Homo sapiens: one gene and its partner. The protein of the gene in region 1 interacts with the protein of each later gene in a biochemical or structural test. Each region holds a gene or a part of one and is shown on either strand. Other genes may lie near its edges.

Region 1 (3,779 bases):
TGGTATGTCATTGTGGTTTTGATTTGCATTTCCCTAGTGACTAATAAACAATTTGTGCATAAAGTGCTGCCTCAGTATGTAACTCATGGTCATTGAACAACTCGAACTTGTTCATGCAGTTGTTAAAGGATATTTCTAGAAACTAGTTTAGCACTTGAGAAAATCTGACTGAATATTTCCCATTAAGAAAAGTTTTTTTAATTAGTTGAACCTCTCTTGAATATCATTGATGGCTTGTATGTATTTATGAACATCAATATTACTCTTTCCGGGGTTCAGAGGTGATTGCTGCTTTTAGATTGCTGTGCATGAATGAGATGTCTGAGAGGGTAAGGTATGTGAGAGAGATGAAGACAGACACAGACTGACTGAAAAGATGGATTTTGTATAGCATCATACAACCAATATAATTGTTGCTCTTTAGAACATTGAAGTGCTCATGTAAGTGAACAAGTTGCATATTCTCTCAAGTGAAAACTTAGCCTGTTTTTGTTGTGTGTCTCTGGGGAGCTCTGATGTCTGAGCCTCACTCTTCGGGGCTCTATTTTGGAGTCCTGCATTCTGAGATCTAAGGGCAAGTAGGAAGGATAACTTATTTTTTATGCCCACAGATTATTGAATGCTGTTTGTTCCCAAGAGGGAATATATCTTCTAGAAGTGTATGTAAGAGTGGAAGAAGTAAGAAAAGAATACAGACAATGTGCAAAAATAAAAGATTGTTTTAAGTTGAATTCCTGTTCCCTGGTTTGCTAGCTTGCTTGCATGCACCTCACTAGTTGAGTAATATAGTCCCTGGGTGAACCGAGTTGACTGGGGGATTGGCTCCTCTTAATGTGATTCTGGTATCTGTTTACAAGAGGAGTTCCTAGAGGTTCAGGATGGTCATCCTGGCTAAATTCTTTTTCCCTTTTCCAGATATACATTAGAGGGTGCTGTTTTGTTTTGCTAATGATAGTTTATTGACAGCCAGATGACATTAGGAGCATATTTTTAGGAATTACACTCTTGTGAAGTATGCTGTTCTCTCAGTGTAACAAAAACTTAGAACTATTTCTGAAAAAAATTTAACTGTATGAACTTGGCAAGGTTTTTTGAAGAATTTGTTATGTTCTTTCCCCATAAATTCTCTCTGTATAATCAAACCTTGACAATTGTATTTTTAGTGTGCTTTGTTGAAGACCACTTGCCTCTACAAGTGCTTGATGAGTGATGTGTGAAAGCTCTGTTTCTCTGTGAGGAAACACATGAAAGGAGCTCTGTAGTATTATTAGCACATGTAGCTTGCATGTGAGGTACCTCCTCAGTTCCTGAAAGTTAAGGACAGCACAGATGAAAATCCCAGCAGCGTTCATGATGAGTGGGAGAATCCTGGGCACTAAAGAATCTTTCACAGATATTCTTCCACTCATATTTGTAGAAAATTGGCCATACCCATATGCCACATTTTTGTAAACACTGCATCCTTCCAGCTTTTTGGGGTCTTTATTTTTATCTGCAATAAGAGACCTTGAAATCTGAGAATATGACAAAGAATGCACGGAAATGTGATGTGTATTGGATCAAATGGAAATATTCCTTATGTCTGTTTAGTTGTCCTTTTCCATAGAGAATAATTAGATTCTAGTTAACCTAGAAAAATGTTTAGAAAAATGTCCAGATAGATTCACTATCATATAATAGTAGCAAATATTGTGGTTGTCTTATTAGTTGAATCTGTAGTCTTTTTTTGGTTATACTTCTTATGTTGGTTTGTCAGTGTTCTCTGATCTATGAAATATGCAAGAATTCCTTAGTGATATGTTAATAGAGGCCTCATTAGAATTACAAGATTCTTCCTGCTTCTGGTTTTAAAATAAATTTTATTTTTAAACTAATTAATCTTGGAAAAACATGGGCTGGACAGTATAATTAGATAGCACCATTGTAGTGTTAATTCTTGCTCTCTGGCTGTCACTAGAGTTCTGGAATCTATGTGACATATACTTCAACTTTACTAAGTGCACATGGCAGTATTAAGTGTTGCAGAAGTAATAGGCATACAGAAGTTGTAGATTTTAAGGTACTCTTAAATTTATTTTTTCCTAGGACAGGAAGATAATATGACCTCAGTAACAAACCACTTTTCTCAATCAAAGCTGGACTCCCCAGAGGAATTGGAACCTGACAGAGAAGAGGATTCTTCTAGCTGTATTGATATTCAAGAAGTTCTTTCTTCATCAGAATCAGATTCATGCAATAGGTAAGAAACATGCAGTAGTTGATTATTTTAAATATCTACTTCATATGCACATGTAGATAGATAGGCAGAAATAATTAGAATGTAGCTTTGAGGCATGGCATGGTGTGTCACTCTTACATTTCAGTCCCCTTTTACTGCTGGGTCTTCTTCACAGTGATAACAAGGCAGGATTTGGGAAGGTAGTGCAGGGATCACAGGGTGAGTTTGGTCTCTACTCTATAGCCTTTATGTAGATACTTTTCCTACCGTTGGAAAAGAAAGCATGATAGACAGTGAAATTTTTGTCAAGACGATGAGTAAAGGAGATAAAAACAACTATATTGGAAAACAGAAATGATCAGAAAGACATGGCGCATAGGAGGGTTAAGAAATGAAAAATTTAACTGAGTAAATAGAATAGATGGGGAAACTTTAAAAATGAGAAGTTTGGTAATGAGTCATTTTGAAAAGATATTTTAAAAAATATATAGGGTTTATTTTACACACACACACACACACACACACACACACACGCATGCACACACACATACCAGTTTTTGTTCCGGTCTTTCACTTAATGTTATGTCATAAATGTTACGTTTCTATAGGTTGGCACAAAAGTAATTGAAACCACAGTTACTTTTGCACCAACATAATAGCTTATGTTTATAATTGTTATTTTTTAATGAGTACAGTATTCTGTTATGTCTCTGCGCTATAATTTACCAGACCCTTCAGTTTCTGTTAGAGCTCTACATTTTTCCCAGTGTTCTACTTATGTACCTGATGCTATGGTAAAGCTCTTCCTTTGTTTCTATTGAATACTTTTTTTTTCATTTTTTTGAGACGGAGTCTCACTCTGTTGCCCAGCCTGGAGTGCGGTGGTGCGATTTCGGCTCACTGCAACCTCCACCTCCCAGGTTCAAGCATTTCTCCTACCTCAGCTTCCCAAGTGGCTGGGATTACAGGCCTGTGCCACCACGCCTGGCTAATTTTTTTTTTTGTACATTTAGTAGAGACAGGGTTTCACCGTGTTGGCCAGGCTGGTCTCAAACTCCTGACCTCAAGTGATCCACCCACCTCGGCCTCCCAAAGTGCTGGAATTACAGGCATGAGCCACCGTACCTGGCCACTTATCTTTATTATTCTGATATGTAGGCATTGCCCTCTGAATGAATTGTACTGATTTAAAATGCCTACCTATCAGAATCATTGCTTATTGCCAGTGTTATTTAATGACGCTGAAACTTAGTCAAGAGAGACACCCATTTGATTCTGGTAACTGATACCATAGAAATCAGGAAAAGATTCAAACTTAGAAGGGACTACCAGTCAAGACCAAATTCCTTTAGTAGCATCATACTATGTGGTATTTATTTATCTGGTCCAACTGGGCGTTCTCAGGGTGGGGTTAATGAGTATATTACATAGATTTGGCCTTGCTGTGCTGAAGACATGCCAGTCTTGTCACCAGCTTCATACTCAACCCCTCAGATTCTGTTATCAAGGACGCTTGTAATCAAATTGAAGCTTAAGTGGTAGAGGAAATTTTCATTTTGGG
Region 2 (3,779 bases), on another chromosome or scaffold:
ATCTAACTCTCTCACATTATTTGTGACTCACATCATTTGATGCAAGTTTAATATGGGCATCAAATACAACTTCATTACCTTATTTAAAGTGCTAAGGGATAGCTCTCTCTTTTTTTTTATAGGAGCATTAAACAATAATCATCATTTCTCGACACAGGCACAGAGCAAAAGGTTTTCCTTATTTGGTGTAACTTTATTGTTTGAGGATGTGGAACATAAAGCCTGATGTCACTTTGTATAAAATCTTACTTTATTAATTCCTTACTTTCACAAGAGAATGGGGGAAAATCATTAAATAATTATGTCAAAGCATCCCCTGAGGGCCTCCCATAACAATTACTTGCATGATGTGTTTTAAAAGCTTTACATTGGGATTAAAGTAAATGTTTTCATTTTCTACTAATTTTTTTCTTTTTTTTGAGATAGGGTCTCACTGTGTTGCCCAGGCTGGAGTGCAGTGGTGCAGTCTCAGCTCACTGCAACCTCCGCCTCCTGGGTTCAAGCAGTTCTCCTGCCTTAGACTCCCAAGTATCTGGGATTAGAGGCGCGTGCCACCACACCCGACTAATTTTTTGTATTTTTAGTAGAGGTGGGGTTTCACCATGTTGGCCAGGCTGGTCTCAAACTCCTGACCTCAGGTGATCTGCCCGCCTCGGCCTTCCAAAGTGCTGGGATTACAGGCATGAGCCACCACGCCCAGCCTACTAATGTTCTTTTCATTTATTATAATGTCCAAACTCACTATGAATATGTGAATTTTTAATATCTATTGCTTTTAACATATTTACTTGTATATTGCCCTCTTCGTGTATTTTCATATTCTTAAACAATTGGAATAGTTAAACTTTTCTTCTCATGTGTAAATACCTGTGGGCTGGACTTTCAGGCGTGTCTCACCTCACATCATGCCATGGGAAATTGTCAATAGTGCATTGGAACTGTGGAAGGCAATTGATATATCTTCCTCTAAAGTCCAAGACATTGTTTTGCTGTTTCCCCATTTTCTAAAAGGTGTTTGTCTTTGGAAATATATTGCTAACTACCATCTCTACATACAAATAAAATAATAATTTTTTAAATGTTTACTCTCCCATGTAAATCTGGATGGTGAGTGCCAGATAATATAAGAAACTGAAATACCATACACTTTTTAGCACTTGTCTTCCAAATGAAATGCTTTAATCCTAGTGTTACATTCTGATTACCTTAGTTATGGGGATTATAAAGATGTTTCTGTCACAAAGCAAATAAGAAACTACTTCAGCTCTTAGTTACACAGCCAGGCCTCACAAAAAAGTAGAAAGTAGTTCAGATTGAAAAGGTACCTGAACATTCTGCAGCAGCTCTGATAATGTGTGAGAAGGCAGCATTCTTCACTTCCTGCTGTATAGTTCTGCTCTCACAGTGGCTCACCTGAGGGCAGGGTGGTAGAGGCATGAGGTACAAAACATGGCATAAAAAACTCTGCAGAACGGGTTTATGAATGTGGCAGATAACTTACTTGGTTTGCAGTTTTTCTGTAGCTTTCTTTACCGTGACTTCTACCCATCCAGATGGGGAAAAGGGCTCCAGGTAGATACCATTTCAATTGTTTCACAGTCTTTATTTTTTTTTTATTTTTTTTTATTTTTTTGAGATGGAGTCTCACTCTGTCACCAAGGCTGGAGTACAGTGGCACAATCTCAGCTCACTGCAACCTCTGCCTCCTGGGTTGAAGTAATTCTCCTGCCCCAGCCTCCGGAGTAGCTGTGCGCCACCATTCCTGGCTCATTTTTGTATTTTTAGTAGAGATGGGGTTTCACCATGTTAGCCAGGCTGGTCTCGAACTCCTGACCTCAGGTGATCCTCCCACCTCAGCTTCCCAAAGTGCTGGGATTACAGACGTGAGCCACCTTGCCTGGCCTGTTTCCCCTCTGAATTGTTCTACATTTTAAAACCAGCATATTAAAAAATGACAGGAACTGAAGCACATAAATATCAGCTAATGTAAGTTTGAAAATAAGGCTTATTGGCGAGGCAAGGTGGTTCACATTTATAATCCTAGCACTTTAGGAGGCTGAGGTGGGAGGATCAGTTGAGGCCAGGAGTTTGAGACCACCCTGGGCAAGATTGTGAAACCCTATATTTACCAAAAAATTATAAAATTAGCTAAGCGTGATGGCTCGCGCCTGTAGTCCTAGCTATACTCCAGCCTGGGCAAGAGGGAGACCCTGTCTTAAAAAAAAAAAAAAAAAAAGAGAGAAAGAAAATAAGCTTATTGTGTATGTGCCCTGGGAATTCAGATTTGGAAAACATCTGACTGAATTAACATCTATGACTTACTTCACACTACATATTTTAAATTTTTAAATTAATCAGATGTCTGTCATATTTATTTTATATTATCTTTAAAATTTTTTCCTAAACAGCCAAATACATTTTTCAAGTAATATACATTCGTATGCATCTTAAAACTAGAAATTTAATTTTTTCTTCTGTATTGACCTTAATTTGGAAAATATTTATATGTAATAAAATTACGAGATGGGATCAGAAAGCTTTGTTGCTAACCTTGGTTGTTATAAATACATTTAAATTGTATTTCTTCTACATTAAGCCAAGAAAACAGGCTTTAATAGATTTGTTCATGGAGACATTTTTAGTATCAGTATAGATTTAAGAATATTTTACAGTCCATTTATGAAAAATATAAATATAAAGAGGCAATAACCAGACTGGTATTTTTACTTTACTTTGTAATAATAGTTTATAGCCTATTAATAATAACGTCTCTTTTTCTTAAACTTGGATTATCCAATCAGACCTTCAGAATTTGTATATTCAAAGAAGCATAACTTTCACAGGTAATTTCTATTTATTACAAATGTGCCCTTAGTCAAAGTGATACTTTATAAACAAGCAAATCAAAATTAAAATCAGCATTTGAAAGAAGAAAATTCAGATTATTTTAACATCTAAAAGGTTTCTTCCATAAATGAAGAAAAGTTAAGTGTTTTTCCTTCTAAAAACAAAACTTATTTTCAGTATAATTATTATATATTGTTTATTATATTCTAAATTCTAATTTTCGAAGATTCTTTTTCTTCCTAAAGAAGAATAAAGAAAAGATTTCCTTTTTTTTTTTTTAAGAAAAAGGTAATGTGAACTGAAACCTAATTCTGAATTTCAATTAATTTAGGTACGAACATTAGTGAGTTTTACATAAGATATTTCCTTTTAATATTTATACTGTGGAAATGGATAATAGTCTTTTTAAGAAAAATTCATAATCAGTGTTCTCTTTAATGGTTATAAAACATTAAATGATAAATGATGGCATTTCTGATCTTGGATCCTAGAAACTAAACTAAACTAGATTTTTGTTTTTGTCTTCAGAAATAATGTAGGGAAACCTAACTTATGAAGTATATACTTCTTAAAATAAAGGTGAGTTATTTTCCTGTTTATGACTTAGATAATCCAGGAAAGGAAGTTAATAAACTGAGTGAGCATGAACGATCCATCTCTCCACTACTTTTTGAAGAGAGTCCTTCTGATGTGCAGCCCCCAGGAGATCCTTTCCAAGTGAACTTTGAAGAACAAAACAATCCTCAAATACTCCAAAACTCAGTTGTTTTTGGAACATCAGCCCAGGAAGTGGTAAAGGAAATTCGTTTCAGAATTGAGCAGAAAACAACACTGACAGCCAGTGCAGGTATTTAAAAGAGTATTGATGGCCACTGTAGTTATAATTTTCAGACTGGCTAATTTAAGTGTAATATTAGTAGTTTCTCATTATA

Evidence for each region. The genes of interacting proteins can lie anywhere in the genome.
Region 2: the proteins of RAD18 (region 1) and POLK form a complex in vitro, tested with the Homo sapiens proteins (one study listed by BioGRID).

The regions. Positions count from the first base shown.
Region 1 is NC_000003.12:8,897,354-8,901,132, reverse strand, and holds part of RAD18 (E3 ubiquitin-protein ligase RAD18), read left to right. Parts: intron 1-2,085; coding exon 2,086-2,239; intron 2,240-3,779. UniProt on the Homo sapiens protein: E3 ubiquitin-protein ligase involved in postreplication repair of UV-damaged DNA. Postreplication repair functions in gap-filling of a daughter strand on replication of damaged DNA.
Region 2 is NC_000005.10:75,577,755-75,581,533, forward strand, and holds part of POLK (DNA polymerase kappa), read left to right. Parts: intron 1-2,801; coding exon of another isoform or gene 2,802-2,843; intron 2,844-3,454; coding exon 3,455-3,694; intron 3,695-3,779. UniProt on the Homo sapiens protein: DNA polymerase specifically involved in DNA repair. Plays an important role in translesion synthesis, where the normal high-fidelity DNA polymerases cannot proceed and DNA synthesis stalls.